Linked DNA regions of Homo sapiens: region 2 is linked to region 1. Evidence: fine-mapped expression QTL. A gene starts in region 1. The other region holds a variant in brackets. All regions are shown on one strand. Distances are from middle to middle.

Region 1 (9,440 bases):
TATACCAGACTGTGAAAAATAAATATACATTTGGTCTCTGCCCTCCAAATCTTTGGAATTGCTGAAGTGTCTTTTATATGCTATTGAGATGACTGGTGCCTGGGGCTCTTCCATGGCCTCAGGAAGGGAGCTGGTTGCCAGGGGAACCAACCTTGTGACAGACAGTTGGAACTTTCAGTCTCACCTCTCCAACCAACCCCTGACCTCTGTGGAAGGGAGAGGTGATGGAAATTGAGCTTACCACCAATAGTTAATGAATTAATAAATTATGCCTATGTAATGAACCCACCAAAACAATAAAAGGATGAGGTTGAGAGCTTCCAGGCTGCTGAACATAGGGTAGTCCTGGGAGGGTAGAATACCCAGAAAGGGCATGGAAGCCCTGAGGCCCTTCCCCATTACCTGACCTATGCATCTTTTCCAACTGGCCATTCCTGAGTTGTACCCTTTCATAATAAGCCAGTAATCTAGTAAGTAAACTGTCTTCCTGCATTTTTTGAGCCTTCTAGCAGATGAATAGATCTGAGAAGGGGGTTGTGGGGACATCCAATTGGTAGCCAAGTCCAAAAGAACTTGTGAGTAACCTGGGGACCCAGCACTTTTCAGGGGGGCAGTATTGTGGGACTGAGCCCTCAACCTGTGGAGTCTGTCCTAAGTCTAGACAATTAGTGTCAGAATTGAGTAAATTTTAGAATACCTAATAGGTATGGAGAATTGAATTGATGTGTGGGAAAAACCCCACATATCTGGTGTCAGATGTGGGGAAAAGAAAGAGAGATCAGACTGTTACTGTGTCTATGTAGAAAGAAGTAGACGTAAGAGACTTCATTTTGTTCTGTACTAAGAGAAATTCTTCTGCCTTGAGATGCTGTTAATCTGTAACCGTAGCCCTAACCCTGTGCTCGCAGAAATATGTGCTGTGTTGACTCAAGGTTTAATGGATTTAGGGCTATGCAGAATGTCCTTTGTTAAAAAAGCACTTGAAGGCAGTATGCTTGTTAAAAGTCATCACCATTCTCTAATCTCAAGTACCCAGGGACACAACACACTGCAGAAGGCCACAGGGGCCTCTGCCTAGGAAAGCCAGGTATTGTCCAAGGTTTCTTCCCAAGTGATAGCCTGAGATATGGCCTCGTGGGAAGGGAAAGACCTGACCGTCCCCCAGCATGACACCGGGGGATACCCGTAAAGGGTCTGTGCTGAGGAGGATTAGAAAAAGAGGAAGGCCTTTTTGCAGTTGAGATAAGAGGAAGGCATCTGTCTCCTGCCAACTACTTGGGAGGCTGAGGCAAGAGAATGGCGTGAACCTGGGAGGCAGAGCTTGCAGTGAGCCAAGACTGCGCCACTGCACTCCAGCCTGGGCAACAGAGCAAGACTCTGTCTCAAAATAAATAAATAAATAAATTAGTAATTTTAAAAAAGTTGGTTGGCAGGCACCAGCATGCAAAGAATGCCAATATTCCAAAAATGGTCTGGAGTATGTACATTAAAATGACAACCATAGTTCCTTCTTGAGTGGTGGGTGATTCATGTATCATTGTAATGGTCAAAAGTTGAACTACCAACAAAGCATGGATTCTTTCATATTGAGTCTACTTTTTTTTCCTTCTTTTTGAGACAGGGTCTTACTTTGTCACCCAGGTTGGAGTGCGGTGGTGCAAACATGGCTCACTGTAGCCTCGTCCTCCTGAGCTCTAGCAATTCTTCTCCCACCTTAGCCTCCCGAGTAGCTGGGATTACAGGTGTGCACCACCACACCCAGCTAATTTTTGTATTTTTTGTAGAGACGGGGTTTCACCATGTTGCCCAGGCTGGTCTTGAACTCCTGAGCTCAAGCGATCCAGAATCTACTTCTTAAGGCAGAATGAACCCCCACCTCTACTCCCAAAAGCAATGTAAGTTAATTTCTCCCTAGAACACAATTATCCCAGTATATACTTCCTTAAGTTCAACTGACTTCTTCAGGCCACCATAAATCTATCAAAAAATCAAAGGGAAAATATCACCTGGGTCTTGATCATTTTCTTCTGTGCTCAGAAAATAGTGGATAACATGGACTATACGTCTTTGTCTCTTCTGCATTTGCCATGAAGTTTTTGAAGTTTTCCTAGTCAGAAATATTAGTGTCCACTTAAAGTTGTCCCCAGAAATTATGATATCCAAGGCCAGCAACCTCCTTCTTCTTCCTTCATTGCTTCACTTGAGTTATTTTGCTTCTGGGAGCCAGGACCTGAGGACTGATAAACAAAATGGCTTTCAGTGTACATTAACCCTGGGTCCAGACATTGTCACTGCTGCTCTGCACTTACCTTAAATAAAAGACCCTAATATTTCTAACAGTTCCTTTATTTGCTGCCTCAGAGGTTTTCATGGTTCTAAATGTGTGAAATCTATGCCTTTCTTTTGTGAAGTAGAAGTGGCATGACTATTATAGAGAAGGTGGGAAAGCAGAACCAGCACAGCACAATGCCTCAGAGGCAGGTGTCTGGGGAAAAGAAAGAGAGATCAGACTGTTACTGTGTCTATGCAGAAAGAAGTAGACATAAGAGGCTCCATTTTGTTCTGTACTAAGAGAAATTCTTCTGCCTTGAGATGCTGTTAATCTGTAACCCTAGCTCCAACCCTATGCTAGCAGAGACATGTGCTGTGTTGACTCAAGGTTTAATGGATTTAGGGCTGTGCAGGATGTGCTTTGTTAAAAACGTGCTTGAAGGCAGTATGCTTGGTAAAAGTCATCACCATTCTCTAATCTCAACTACCCAGAGACACAATACACTGCGGAAGGCCGCGGGGACCTCTGCCTAGGAAAACCAGGTATTGTCCAAGGTTTCTCCCCATATGATAGCCTGAGATATGGCCTCGTGGGAAGGGAAAGACCTGACCGTCCCCTACCCCGACACCTGTAAAGGGTCTCTGCTGAGGAGGATCAGTAAAAGAGGAAGGCCTCTTTGCGGTTGAGATAAGAGAAAGGCATCTGTCTCCTCCTCGTCCCTGGGAATGGAATGTCTCCGTGTAAAACCCCATTGTCTGTTCTATTTACTGAGATAGGAGAAAACCGCCTTAGGGCTGGAGGTGAGACATGCTGGTGGCAATACTGCTCTTTATTGTACCGAAATGTTTGTGTGCGTGCACATCAAGGCACAGCACGTTTCCTTAAACTTATTTATGACACAGAGACCTTTGTTCACATGTTTTCCTGCTGACCCTCTCCCCACTATTACCTTATTGTCCTGCCACATCCCCCTCTCCGAGGTGGTAGAGATAGTGATCAATAAATACTGAGGGAACTCAGAGACCAGTGCCAGCGTGGGTCCTCCGTATGCTGAGTGCTGGTCTCCTGGGCCCACTTTTCTTTCTCTATACTTTGTCTCTTATTTCTTTTCTCAGTCTCTCATCCCACCTGACAAGAAACACCCACAGGTTGTGGAGGGGTGGCCCCCTTCAAGGTGAATTCTCAGACAGATCAATTTTAGGAAAGAGAACACATGGAAGGCTCCAAGAATGTCTTTAAAAACCACGTGTGCCCATGTACTGGTTCGAAAGTCTCTGTAAGCTCTTTGGGTATACATACCTCGTGTCAAGACCAATGTACTAAGCAAATCACAAGAACTGTCTCATTTCACATTATGCGCTAAAGGAGTAACTTTACCCAAGAGAGCTTTGTCCTTTGCCCACAGTTCCTATGAGGCAAACTCTAAGCCTTTGGAATACGCTGCTTGATAAAACTGTCTTTGGTTATCAGGGCAATTTAAGCCATGCCAAATTGTCTATCCTAATAATGTGATTTACTGTGGGAGACCTTGGACCACGTGGTATTAGTTTGATATCTGGAGGAGCTGGAGATTGAAGTCAGCCTCATAGGCAGTCAATTGTGTGTGTGTGTGTTAACTGATATCCAATAAAACTCTGGACACCAAGGCCTAGGTGAGTGGCAACAATGGTTACAATGGCTGGCAATAATAATATAAGGGTGTATATATAAGAATATGATAATTTAAAAACGTATGAAGCAAAACAGAATGAGAGAGGATTAGACAATTCAACAATAATAATTGAAGACTACATTACCCTACTTGCAATAATAAAGAAAACAAATAGAAACTCAGCAAGGATACCGAAAACTTGAACAACATTATCAACCAACTAGACTTAACGAACATTTAACACTGCACTCAACAGCAGTAAAATAAACATTTTTTTCAAGAGCACATGTTATATTCTTCAGGAAAGATAATATCCCATGTGATAGCCTGAGATAGGGCCTCATGGGAAGGGAAAGACCTGACCGTCCCCCAGCCCAACACCCGTAAAGGGTGACTCACAAGGGCCCCAGACCCAGACAGAGTCGGACTCGTCGCTGATTTCCTCAGACTCTTCATCCCTACAGCCAAAGGACCCGTCATTAACGCCCCGCTTCCTCAGCGACTGCGTTCAAATACAGCCCCAATCAGGACGCTCCACGCACCATCGGTACACAGACCCACAGGCCGCGAGTCCATGCCCAGAACTCGACTCACCCGAGCCCGAACCTCTCCAGACACCACTGGCAGCGACAAAACGCCGCATCCACGTCCGAAAACGCTTCCTATTCAGACGCGCTCCTGCGCGGACTCCGGGAAGCTGAGCGGTAAAGACCGTGAAGCGAGGCGAGGACCACGGAGCCTGCCCGGGATCGCGAGTTCAGACTGCGGGCGCCGCTCTATGAGGTCACAGGGCTGCGCCCATCGCAGCGTTTCTGACAGGAGCGGCCATAATGGCTGTGGGAATCACTCTTAGTCACCTCAGTGCCTTTCTCTCTTCGTTGCAAGGGACACTCAAGAGTCGGGTGCCCAGCCAAGGCCAACACGGCGCAGTGGCATTCTATTCAGCCTGCTGTGGAAAAAAGATGGCGGCGCCCTTTGTGCCCATTATAGCTGAGAGTGGAGCCTTAGCTGGAGCACCATGGGCACGGCCATCTTAGAGGAAGGCAGCAGCCGTACGGCAGAGAAGATGCTCATATCCAGGACAATTTGGAAAAATAAACAAGGTTTGAAGAAGTCACGGTGCTGGCCAGGAAGCGGTCACAGAGTTGCCAAAACCAGTGGTCACTGAAAGTGTTAGATTTGGGGATAGGGCGGGGGTTCTGGGCTGGGTAAGGCTTTTGTGGGTTAGATTAGACTCTGACTGAATGGACGAAGCCGAGAACAGGAGTGATGCTCCATTAAATGCTAATACCCACATGGGGCTTGCTATTAAAACCACTGCCAGTGGGGAAGGGGATGAGGAGGTGAAGGTGCAACTGTGTTAATATCTACATGTTTCCTTCCAGAAGTAAAGGAAGATGACAGTGGGGCACTTAAGAATATGAAATTATTAGAATGCGATCATCCTACTTTGCAATGTTTCCAGATTTTTTAAAAAGTCACACTTAAAAAATATTAGTTCTATTTTTGCAGATGTTGGCGTTGTAACTGTAGAAGATTTAAGTAAATATTGTATTTTTGGAAGGCAACCTAGAGCCAATTTAATTTTTTCGTTTTCTTTGACACAGCAATTCTAAAAGCTATCTAGGCAAATCTGTCTTAATATTAACCACAACTTTTGTAATTTACAAAAAAAGGGAATTACAATGAGAGATGAATACTTTGGTAAATTATGGAACATCTGCTGAACTGTAAGAGTATATATCAATTTAAAAGAATATGCTACAATTGTTTTATAAAAAAGAAAACTTTGTCAGAGGACAAAAAAATGATCTGCAGGATAGTATATATTTTATGGTCTTGTTATTGGAAGAAATCATAAACATCTTTTGGAAAATTGTGATTGGTTAAACAAGACATTTAGTTTGAATTAATATTGTTTGTGTTCATAGGTAGAGAATGCCATGTTTTTACTTGAAAAATATTCCCAATTTATACTTAATTTTACTATCTTTGTACCATAATCATGAATATATTATAAAACATGTTGATCTTAGAAAATAGGTATGATGATGTATAATAAGTTCATGGCATGATAAATGCAAAATAGGCTGTTTTCTTTCAGAAAATAAATATGCTCATGCATTTGAAAAATTCTGGAGAATATACTAACAATATTTGACTGTTCCGTACAATTATGGTGACTTAAAATTTCTTCATTTTACTTACGTTTTGTAATTTCTAGAGAATAAGAATTTCATGTTCGTATTTCTTGAGTGTTATAACATATTCCATCCAGGATTAAATTTCAGCCCCGTTCATCTGGAATGTTAATCTCTGGTAGGTAAGTTTAGCACCTGGTCCACAGGACTATGAGCAGCCCATGATGGGACCTTCACTGATCATTTCCAGGAGTGGGCTGATAAAACTTTGCCGTGGCAGGCTGTGCTGATTCACGGGACAAGGAAGGTGATTCAAGGGCCTGGTTGGTGGAGCACTTTTGTCTGATTCATTGCTGGAGACAATCTGCCCTGAATCCATCCTGTTACAGTGTGGGAATGGTGATGGGAGCACCAATCCACAATTTAGGGCAGAGATGTTCAAATTTAAGAAGGCTCTTTTTATAAATGCAGAGTCCGAACCCCATCCCCAGAAATTCTAGCTTGGAATGTCTGGGGAGTGACTCAAGAATTTGCCTTCTTTTACAAGCTTCTCAGAGAATGCTGAGGCAGGAACCCCAAAGAAAACACTTAGAAAGTTCTATAGTGTTCTGGACTTAAAAATATGATGGCTGTGTCCCCACAGTATATTTAGGCTTTGGTTCAAATTATATCTGCACAGAAAAGCCTATCCTGAAAACTCTTCCTAAAATAACTCAGGTTACAATCTATGAACTTACCAGGCTTTATATTTCTTCCTAGCACTTAACTGAATTCGATTTTGTATTTATCTTACTCAGTCTCCTTCACCAGACTGTATGTCATATCAAAGCCAGCACTTTGCCTGTTTTGTTCATTGATGTGTCTCCATTGCCTACAACATGCCTGCCATGGTGTAGAAGCTCAAAAAATATTTTCAAAGAAGTAAATTACTCAATATGGAGTCAGGGATTGAATTCTGCCACAATACTATATGGCAAATGTCTATTACTTTTATAAAGAGAACTCACCATTTATAAACTGGATTAAATCTCATTAGATCAAGGGAAATAACTCTGGATAGAGAAAACAGGAACCCTGTTTCTAGGGAAACTAATAATTTTTTGCCACCAGGCCTGCTCAAAGAGAAATGATTAAGGAAGTTCGCACAAAAAGGAAATAACTAAAGGAAATATTACATCAGGAATGAAGAAAAAGGAACAGAAAGGGTAAATATATTATAAAATATAATATTCTTTTGAGTTTTAAACATTGGGTTTGCTGGTTGGAAGCAAAAGTTACAATTTTACTTGATATGGTTCTCAGTGGATGTAGAGATGCTTAATATCATTTTGTGTTAGGGGTGTGTAAGTTGAGGCCATGATCATATACCACCACACACCTAATAGGAAAGCTAAAGCACACTGGCAATGCCAAGAGCTAGAAAGGGCATGGAATGCTTACACATTGGTGGTGGGAATGTAAACTAGTACAGCCACTCTGGGAAAGAGTTTGGCCATTTCTTATAAAGTTAAACACATTTACCATATTCGCCAGCAGTCATGCCCCCAGTGTCTATCCCAAATATATAAAAACTTAACGTTCGCACAATATCGGGTACACAAATAGTCACAGCATCTTTATTTATAACAGCAAAACACTGGAAACAACCCAAATGTCCATCAACAGTGAATGGATACACAAACCCTGGTGCATCCATTTAAAAGAATACTAACTCAGTAACAAAAATTAAAACTATTTAGACACCTAACAACTTGGATAGATCTTAAGGGTAATTTGCTGAGTGAACAAAGCCCTATCTCAAAGCTTGCGTACCTTACGATTCCATTTTAATAGCATTCTTGAAATAACAAAATTAGGGTAATGGGATCAGTGGCTACCATGGGTCATATTGGGAGGACAGTGTGAGTATAAAGAGGTAGCAAGAGGAGGCCAGGCGTGGTGGCTCATGCCTGTAATCCCAGCACTTTGGGAGGCTGAGGCGGGTGGACCGCCCGGGGTCGAGAGTTCAAGGCCAGCCTGGCCAACACAGTGAAACCCCGTCTCTACTAAAAATACAAAAATTAGTCGAGCGTGGTCGTGGGTGCCTGTAATCCCAGCTACTTAGGAGGCTGAGGCAGGAAAATCTCTTGAACCTGGGAGGCGGGGTTGCAGTGAGCCAAGATCGTGCTATTACACTCCAACCTGGGCAACAAGAGCAGAACTCCGTGGTTTTTATTATTATGGTTATGTAAGATAACATTGATGATGCTAAGCAAAGAATACTCAGGAAACTTTTGTATATTTTGTAATCTCTTGTGAATCTAGAATTATTTCAAAACAAATTTTAGAAAAATAACATTTAAGGCATTTTTGTAAACTACATAATGGTACCTAGTAACTTGGATAAACACATCCAAATATACTGAATTACATTTATCAGTAAATTGAAAAAAATAAATTTGGGGCCTATAATATGTAAGAACTAATAAATAACACCAGATTGGCACAGAAAACACCTGTGTTATATATAGGATTAAAATTTAATCAGTGATAAGAACAGCCCGCTTTACAATTATGGAATCATTGATAATATGATGCAAGGTATGCTGTCACAGAATAGATATCAAGTGTATCATGAGTTTAGATTTGTGACAGTCCTCAAATATGGTTTTTTTTTTTTTTTTTTGAGGCAGAGTTTCGCTCTTGTTGCCCAGGCTGGAATGCAATGGCGCAATCTTGGCTCACTGAAACCTCTGCCTCCCAGGTTCAAGTGATTCTCCAGCTTAGCCTCCAGAGTAGCTGGGATTACAAGCGTGAGCCACCATGCTCGGCTAATTTTGTATTTTTAGTAGAGAGGGGGGCTTCACCATGTTGGTCAGGCTGGTCTCGAACTCCCGACCTCAAGTGATCCACCCACCTTGGCCTCCCAAAGTGCTGGGATTACAGGTGCAAGCCACCATGCCCGGCATTATGTATCATTTTCATGAGACTTTTTTACTTCATGAATTTCCTGATCCTTTTTAAAGTTACTCTTCATATAAGTTTTATTTCTGTATGAAGTAATGATGATGAGGCAGCATGTATCACTGAAATCCTCGTGTATTCACTGCCATCTGAAACTTGTTCTCCAGTATGAAATATATCTGCCAACTGTTAAGGTTTTATTTCTGGGCAAAGGCTTTCCCATGATAATGCTGCTAGTATGTGTAAGTTCATTGATGATCTATTATGATCACTGAAGAGATAGGGTCTTTCTTCCCATAGAAGGCTTTCCTAGCCTACTCCTTTGTAAGATTTATCTCAGTAAATACTTTTCAAGACATAGTTACTTAGAAAATTTTCAAGACTTTTCTGCATTGGATGTATCAAGTTTATTTCCTACATGTTTATTGTGACA
Region 2 (9,440 bases), 40 kb after region 1:
AATACAAAAAAAATTAGCCGGGCGCGGTGGCGAGCGCCTGTAGTCCCAGCTACTCGGGAGGCTGAGGCAGGAGAATGGCGTGAACCCAGGAAGCAGAGCTTGCAGTGAGCCGAGATTGCGCCACTGCAGTCCGCAGTCCCGCCTGGGCGACAGAGCGAGACTCCGTCTCCAAAAAAAAAAAAAAAAAAAAAAAAAAAAAAAAAAAACTTAGCTATATTCACTCCATGTGTAAATATATTAGGCCATAATTGCATGGCTAGACAGAAATACCTGAGGCTAGGTAATGTATAAAGAGGTTTAATTGACTCACAATTTTGCAGGCTTTATAGGAAACATGGCGCTGACGTCTGTTCACCCTCTCGGGAAACCTGAGGAAGGTTAAAATGATGGTGGGAGGTGAAGGGCATGTCACATGGCCAGAAGAACAAACAAGAGGGAGGTGCCATTCACTTTCGTGCGTGCGTGTGCGTGATGGAGTCTCACTCTGTCACCCAGGCTAGAGTGCAGTGGCGCGATCTCGGCTCACTGCAACCTCCGCCTCCAGGGTTCAAGCAATTCTCCTGACTCAGCCTCTCGAGTAGCTGGTACTACCAGTACCCGCCACGAAGCCCAGCTAATTTTTGTATTTTTGGCAGAAACAGGGTTTCACCATGTTGGCCAGGCTGCTCTTGAACTCCTGACCTCAAGTGATCCGCCCACCTCAGCCTCCCAAAGTGCTGGGATTACAGGCATGAGCCAGACCTCATGAGAACTATCACAAGGACAGCAACAAGGGGATGGTACTAAAACTTTCTTGAGAAAGCCACCCCCATCATCCAATCACCTCCCACTAGGCTCCACCTCCAATACTGGAGATTACTACAATTCCACATGAGACTTCAAAGGGAAAGGACAAATATACAAGCTATATGAGTAAGTATAAATTATTTGGGGATCCCAGAGGTTAGGACAACATCTAACGGCCTTTCCACATTGAGTTTAGTTGTAAGGTTCTCTCCAGCATGTTTTATCTGATGTTTAGTGAGGCCTGAGCGACTAATGTAAGATTTGCCACACTCATTACATTTATAAGGTTTTTCACTAGAATGAATTCGTTGGTGTTTAGTGAGGCAAGACCGCCGCCCAAACGCCTTGCCACATTCCATACATTTGTATGGCTTCTCTCCAGTATGGTTTCTCTGATGGTAAACCAAGTTTGACCTTTCGATAAAAGCTTTACCACATTCATTACATTTATAAGGTTTCTCTCCAGTATGCATCATCTGATGATTAAGCAGAATTGAACGTACTCTAAAGGCTTTGCCACACTCATTACATTTGTAAGGTTTCTCTCCAGTATGAATACTCCAATGACGTGCGAGGCCTGAGCGATAACGGAAGACCTTGCCACATTCATTACATTTGTAAGGTTTCTCTCCAGTATGAATTCTCCGATGCCTTGCCAGGGTTGTAGTGGAGTTAAAGACTTTCCCACATTCAATACATTTGTATGGCATCTCTCCAGTATGTCTTCTCTGATGGTACACCAGACTTGTTTTATGACTAAAAGTTCTACCACATTCACTACATTTGTGTGGTTTCTCCCCAGTAGGATTTCTGTGATATCTTGCAAGTTTTGAACTTTGGATAAAAGCCTCACCAAATTCATTACAGTGGTAAGGGTTCTCTCCAGTATGAATTACCAGATGTTTAGTGAGGCTTGAACGCTGAGTATAGGCTTTGCCACAATCATTACATTTATAAGGTTTCTCTCCGGTATGAATTTTCCGATGACGTGCTAGGCATGAGTAGTAACTGAAGACCTTGCCGCATTCGTTACACTGGAAAGGTTTCTCTCCGGTATGACTTCGCCTATGAATTGAAAGGTTTCCACTGTCAATGAAGACCTTGCCACACACATTACATTTGTAAGGTTTCTCTCCGGTATGCATTCTTTGATGACGTGCTAGGCATGAATAGTAAGTGAAGACCATGCCACATTTATTACAATGGAGAGGTTTCTCTCCAGTATGACATCTCATATGAACCGAAAGGTATCCACCGTAATTAAAGACCTTGCCACACACATTACATTTGTAAGGTTTCTCTCCGGTATGAATTCTCTGATGTACAGTTAGTAATGAGCCCCAATTAAAGGCTTTGCCACATTCATTACATTTGTAAGGTTTCTCTCCAGTATGAACTCTCTGATGCACTGCAAGATGTGAATGTTGACTGAAGACCTTGCCACATTCATTACATTTGTAGGGTTTCTCTCCAGTATGAATTCTCCGGTGCCCTGCAAGACGTGAACGTTGAAAGAAGACCTTGCCACATTCATTACATTTGTAAGGTGTCTCTCCAGTATGAATTATCTGGTGCCTTACAAGTTGTGAATTCTGATAAAAGACCTTGCCACATACATCACATGTATATGGTTTCTTTCCTGCATGGATTATATGATGTGCAGTGAGGCTTGAGTTCCGTTTAAAGGTTTTGCCACATTCATTACATTTGTAGGGTTTGTCTCCAGTATGAACTGTCTGATGAGTTGCAAGAGAGGAACTTTGACTAAAGCACTTCCCACATCGATTACATTTGTAAGGTTTCTCTCCAGTATGAATTCTCTGATGAACTGCAAGGTGGGAACTTTTACTAAAGGACTTGCCACATTCATTACATATGTAGGGTTTGTCTCCAGTGTGACTTCTCCGGTGATTTACAAGATCTGAATTTTGTCTGAAGATCCTGCCACATACATCACATTGGTATGGTTTCCCTCTTGTATGGACTATCTGATGTACTGTTAGTAGTGAGCCCCGATGAAAGGCTTTACCAGACTCATTGCATCTGTAAGGTTTCTCTGTAGTATGTATCATCTGATGATTAATAAGACTTGAAGACACTCTGAAGGCTTTGCCACACTCATTACCTATGTAAGGTTTTTCCCTAATATGTGTTTTCTCGTCTTGTGTAGGTAACGAAAGTTGCAAAAAATCATTCCCATATTTCCTAGAAATGTTGGTTTGGACACCAGGAAAAATTCTTTGAAGTGGTGAAGCTAAAAAACAATTATTAACTGTCCTCTCAATTTGATTACATCCATAAATTTTCTCTGCAGTTTGAAATTTCTGCAATTCACCCAGACCGGACTGAAACCTTAATATAAGCTGATTTTCCATATGCTTGTTTTCTACGTCCCCTTGACTATGTCGAACTCTTTGACCAGTAAGATTGTTTTTATGGGTCATCGGCCCTTCTTTATAATTTATTTCACCATCTTTCCATTGAAAGTCAACTTCCTGTAGATTTTTCCGGATTTCCCTGAAGTAAAAATTTTCAGTGTCATAGCTTTCATGTCCTTCCAACATCACTGCTTGGAATTTTTCTCCTGTGTTACTGTTCTGTATTGGTGGTAATTCCTTGATCACACATTTAGGAGAGATACCTGCAAAATATAATGAACATGGGGTTTTAAAATAACTATTATTGGTAAATATTATTTTATACTGAAAACACACTACGCTAAACATAATGTTTATACTAGCAAGTTGTGAAACTTTTCTACCATGATCTTCTATTTGTAGAAATGCAAAATGAATAGAATTCTATAGTAAAGAAAAAGTGATTACATGTAATTTAAATCAATTTTAGGAAAGCCTAGTTTCAAACATCCTTCGACCAAAAGACTCATGTTATGCAAACATATATGAGCACCAAAACAAGTATTTTGCAATCGCTGACCCCAAATGACACACCAATTGGCAGTAAACATATGGCTCCCTCATAATAGGAGAGAAAAAAAGTTACATATATTTATTTCATACAAATGAATGCCAAGCAACAGCAAGATATACTGTAATGGTAAATATTAACTAATAAATAATCATAATATAAATTAATTAATAAAACATTCTAATAGCCTGTGATAAAACCAGCAGGTAAATAATGAACAACCACAAAATACAAATCTATAGTATGAAATTCTAAACAATTCTCCATCAATAATAAGCAAGAATTTATATTCTAGAGGCAGTATATAACTAGAAAATATGTTGAGATCACTGGCTTTTAAAGATAAAAGAAAGGTAAATATGTCTATGGCCATACCACCGTGAATGCATCTGATCTTGTCTGATCTCAGAAACTAAGCAGTGTCAGAACTGGTTAGTACTTGGATGAGAGAAAGGTAAATATATAAAATAATAAAGAATAAAAATTGGGGACAGGTCAGCCGGGCACGGTGGCTCAAGCCTGTAATCCCAGCACTTTGGGAGGCCGAGGTGGGTGGATCACGAGGTCAGGAGTTCAAGACTAGCTTGGCCAACATGGTGAAATCTCGTCTGTACTAAAAGTAAAAAAAATCAGCCGGGTGTGGTGGCACGTGCCTGTAATCCCAGCTACTCCGGAGCCTGAGACAGGAGAATCATTGGAACCCAGGAGGCGGAGGTTGCAGTGAGCCAAGATTTCGCCACTGCACTCCAGCCTGGGCGACAGAGCAGTCT[CA/C]AAAAAAAAAAAAAAAATGGAGACAGGTATGGTGGCTCAGACCTATAATCCCAGCATTTTGAGAGGCCAAGGTGGGCAGATCACTTGAGGCCAAGAGTTTGAGACTAGCCAGGCCAACATGGTGAAACCTCATCTCTACTAAAAATATAAAACATTAGCCAAGCGTGGTGATGCATGCCTGTAATCCCAACTACTCAGGAGGCTGAAGCACGAGAATCACATAAACCTGTAAGGGGGAGGTTGCAGTCAGCCAAGATCACGACACTGCACTTCAGCCTGGGCAACAGAGCGAGACTGCCTCAAAAAAAGAATAAAACTTGGGAAAGGAAATCAGAAATCTCAGTTATGATTTCATGCCTACAACTATGTAACAAACAACAGAGCAAGTCCCTATGTATTCATTGTCTTTTTTTGCTTTTGGCTGAGATGGAGTCTCACTCTGTCACCCAGGCTGGAGTACAGTGGCATGATCCCACCTCACTGCAACCTCCAACTCACAGGCTCAAGCGATCCTCCCACCTCAGCCTCCTGAGAGCTGGGACCACAGATGCATGCCATCATGCCCGGTTAATTTTTTTGTAGTTTTGGTAGAGATGAGGTTTTGCCATGTTGCCCAGGCTGGTCTGGAACTCCTAAGCTCAAACAATCTGCCCACCTCTGCCTCCCAAAGTGCTGGGATTATAGGCATGAGCCACCGTGCCCAGTCCTATTCACTGTCTTTATTATCCAGTTCCTTGGCCACAAAATATATATGATACAGAGATTGTACTTGGAAAATGCATGAACTGAGATAAAAGACAACACCGTTTGGACCAAACTGCAAAATGAAAACTTACAGATACAATGTAGACTGCTCTGATATAAAGACTTATGTCTGCCAAAATTCCTATGTTAAGGCCCCATCCTCAATGTGATAGTATTTGGAAGTGTGGTCTTTGGAAGGCAATTAGGTCAGGATGGTGCATAGAACTTCAGGAATGCAATTAGCAGAAACGTGAAAAAGCCTCTGCTTTTTGCATGACAATCTCTCTGCCACATGAGAACACAGAGTCAGCCATGGCACACCAGAAAAAAGTCCACACCAAGAACCAAAGTGGCTGGCTCTGACATGTTGAACTTTGCACCACCCAGATCTGTGAAAAGTCCATTTCTGCTGTTTAAACCACCCTATCTATGGTATCTGATATAGCTAGTCATGCTGACTAAGGTAAAGCCAATATGCTATCTCATTATAAACATGAAACAATGTTGATACACGTTATTAAACAAATTTGTGAGTCTGTACTATAAAACATGCAATATTCTAAGCTAGCTAACAGCATTAACTTGTTTAAAAAGTCTTTAGGTAAATTATCACTATTTAACAAACAAGCACACTAAATATGCCCACAGGATTTATGTATCTATACCCAATTTACAAAGAAAGTAAGACACAAGAACCTGGGTTTGCAAGATCAAACATGTTTTTTAAAAACAACTTCCCAAACAAGCAGTGCAGATAACAGGTCAACCCAAATATCAAGAGTGTAGAAATACTTCAAGAGCCATTTTGTGTAGAGCACCTGATTCTGTCGCTGTTCAGGGTGCCACTATGTAACCCACATGGACCTAGGAGGACTGAACAAAGGGGGCGAATGCGGGAATAAAAGACAAGAGACAAAAGAGTATATTTGGAAGAAGGGGTCAGGGGCACCTTGCCTGTAGTGGACAAGGGCCCTGAGCTTTACACAGCCGTCCGTATTTATTAGGCAAGAGAGATAGTGAGAAGGATGGTGGAAGAAGGGGTCAGCTGCGCAGTCCAGAGTAGGCTTGCAAGACTGCATTCCTCAAACAACAGGCTCTAGATATGGCAGTAGATAACCCTGGCACCAGGAAGTGATTGCCTCCAGCAAACCTTCTGTCAGCAGGAGCAGTCATGAGTTTGCCCACATCCTGCATTCATGATAAACAGTTTGCTGTTTGATCATATAGCCTCCAGTGGAATGCTGAGTTGGTCACGTCCCACAGGCTTTGGCTCCCTGCAATGCTGTGTTGCCAAAAGCATTATTCAGCCATCCGTCATGAATAACGAACGGTATCTGAGTCATCATCCCCTGCACATATTGATTTACGCAGTGTTATCAGACAGTGGTCAAGTGAATGAGTAGGGGTCACCCCTTACAGAGTGAGAGTAGCATGGGAGGTGAGGGAGTTCTGCAATAATGGGAGTATAAAATTAATATGCTAGTCAGTAACTGGGTAGTCCATCTGGACAAAGTAATATGTTAGGAAAGGCCCAGGAGGACAAAGGGCAAGAGGGGAGATCAAGGAGTAATGAGCATGGAGCAGCAGGGTTTGTGCTTGAAGAGCTGTGGGAATAGAATTGCACAAGAAACAGCTAAAATCCTGGCTTTGGAAGAAAAGAGAAACTAATGTAGAGGTAGTATTGTACTGACTAATACTTAAACATGAGAATTATACTATGGGTGCAGGACAACAAGGGAAGACAATTAAAAAGGAGGCGGTGTGATGATATGGGAAGAAAACAGATTTATGTCTCTATAATATTTGCTATGAAATTTATCAAACTGAATGTCCCATAAGTTCTATTTCCAGGTATATGCTCAACAACCCTACATATCAAGAGATATGTGAAAGACTGTTCTTACAATTCAATCCTTAAGAAAAAACCTGAAAATGGCCACGAAGAGGAGATGGATGAATTCATTTTGTACACACACAAAGACACCACAAAACTTTACTGATAGTACAAGAACGTTAAGGAGACGGGGTGCAGAATGAGGACCCGTAGCACAACAGGCAAAGATTTGAGAAAACAAAGAAAGCAGGAGACTCTTGTCAAGGTTTAAATATATGTTAATGGAGACACAGTATATACGATGAAAGTATCCTGGGATATCAAAAACACAACATGGAAGCAGATCTGTAAAAAGTCATTTCTGTATGTAATTGAAGTTAAGCTGTTATTAGTTTAAAATAGGATGTTATAAATCTAAAGTGTTTTCTGTAATTGCAACGGTAACCACAGAGAATGTATAGAAGACACACACAATGGAAATAAAACTATTTCAGGAAAAAAAAATCAACTATATAAAAACGAAGGCAGTAAGACAAACAGAACAAAAAAATCTAAAAGAGATATAGAAAGCACTTAACACAATGGCAATATAAGTCCTTTTCTATCAGTAATTACATTAAATGTAAGTGTTTATACTCCACAGTCAAAAGACAGAGACTGGCTGAATAAATTTTTAAAACTGGCTTCAGCTGCACACTATCCAGAAAATACTCATTTTAATTCAAAGGACACACATAGGCTGAACTGAAGGGATGAAAAAAGATATGCCCTCAAAATGTTAACCGAAAGACATCAGAGGTGGCTAAACTGATGTCAGCCAAAATAGACTTTATGTCAAAACTGGTACAAGAGACAAAGAAGGGCATTATATAATGATTAAAAGGTTAATTCACTAGGAGGATATAACAATATGTGCCTATATAGAGATCCTCAATATGTGAAGCAAAATTAACGTAACTAAAGGGAGAAGTAGTTCCACAGTAATAATAAGAGACTTCAATGGCCTATTTTTACTTATAAATAGGACAATCAGACAGAAGAAAAACAAGGAACTAGAGAACCTAAACTATATATCAAGTTGAACCTAACCTATATATGCATAACACATCACCCAAAAACAGTGCAATACAAATTTTTCAGAACTGCACATGAAACATTTTTCAAAAGAAATATCGGAAAAGAAAAAAAATTTTAAACTTTTTAAAGACTAAAATCGTAAAGCATAACTTATCCCATCATAATAAAATAAAACTAGAGATCAACAGCAGAAGAAAATTAGATTATCAACAAATATGTGGAAACAACATACTCTTAGGCCGGTGTGGTGGCTCACGCCTGTAATCCCAGCAATTTGGGTGGCTGAGGCAGGTGGATCACCTGAGGTCAGGAGTTCGAGACCAGCCTGGCCAACATAGTGAAACCCTCAGCCAAGCATGGTGGCAGATGCCTGTAATCCCAGCTACTCGGGAGGCTGAGGCAGGAGAATCGCTTGAACCCAGGAAGTGGAGGTTGCAGTGAGCCGAGATTGCACCACTGCACTCCAGCCTGGACAACAAGAGCGTAACTCCGTCTCAAAAAACAAAAACAAACAAACAAGGACCATACTCTTAAACAGCCAATATGTCAAATTAGAAATCACAAGGGAAATTTTAAAAATCTCAAAACAAAGGAAAATGAAAATAGAACATACCAAAACTTGTGAATGCAGGAAAAACAGTGCTAAGATAGAAAATCTGCAGATATAAATGCTAACATTAAAACAGAAGATATCCAATGGAACAGAATAGGAAACCCAGAAATACAGCCACACACCTACAACCAACTGATCCTTGATAGTCAAAAAAAAATTGGGAAAAGACATTCTATTCAATAAAGGGTGCTAGAAAAACTGGCTAGCCATATATAGAAGAATGAAACTGGACTCCTATCTCTTGTCATATACAAAAATTAATTCAAGATGAATAACGACTTACATTAAGTCTTCAAGCTACAAAAATTCTAGAAGAAAATCTAGGAAAAACTTTTCTGGACAAAATACAAGTTGTTGTTTTTTTTTCTTTTTTTTTTTTAGAGACAGGGTCTTGCTCTGTCGCCCAGGCTGAAGTACAGCAGTGTGATCTCAGCTCAATGCAACCTCTGCCTACTGGCTTCAAGCAATTCTCTTGTCTCAGCCTCCCAAGTAGCTGAGATTACATGCATGTGCCACCACACCCGGCTAATTTTTTTGTATTTTTAGTAGAAACAGGGATTCACCATGTTGGTCAGGCTGGTCTCGAACTCCTGACCTCAGACCTCAAAATGATCCGCCTGCCTCAGCCTCCCAAAGTGCTGGGATTACAGGCATGAGCCATTGCTCCTGGCCCAATACCAGTTTTTT

Alleles and levels. Alleles are on the strand shown, and positions count from the first base shown. SD is a standard deviation of normalised expression in the study named.
As copies of CA replace C in region 2, the expression in monocytes after R848 of the gene that starts at base 4,655 in region 1 goes down (large effect, 0.78 SD a copy in Quach 2016).

The links.
Region 2: its variant is fine-mapped to the expression of ZNF614 in monocytes after R848 (Quach 2016, PIP 0.95).

The regions. Positions count from the first base shown.
Region 1 is chr19:52,023,725-52,033,164 of GRCh38, forward strand. ZNF614 (zinc finger protein 614) reads right to left here and starts at 4,655. Exons shown (of 5, transcript NM_025040.4): 1 at 4,518-4,655; 2 at 2,007-2,237. The coding sequence starts at 2,021. ZNF432 (zinc finger protein 432) reads right to left here. Exons shown (of 5, transcript NM_014650.4): 5 at 7,654-9,440. It overlaps LOC112268244 (a long non-coding RNA gene), which reads left to right and starts at 2,675. Exons shown (of 2, transcript XR_002958414.2): 1 at 2,675-2,814; 2 at 3,388-6,056. RefSeq lists enhancers at 3,142-3,912, 4,383-5,142.
Region 2 is chr19:52,064,184-52,073,623 of GRCh38, forward strand. It overlaps ZNF841 (zinc finger protein 841), which reads right to left. Exons shown (of 7, transcript NM_001136499.2): 7 at 282-3,427. The coding sequence ends at 924. Among named protein-coding and RNA genes, the nearest start is that of ZNF432, 20 kb to the left of the region's middle. RefSeq lists enhancers at 831-2,030, 5,947-7,146. The variant CA/C (reference allele first, on the strand shown) is at 4,485.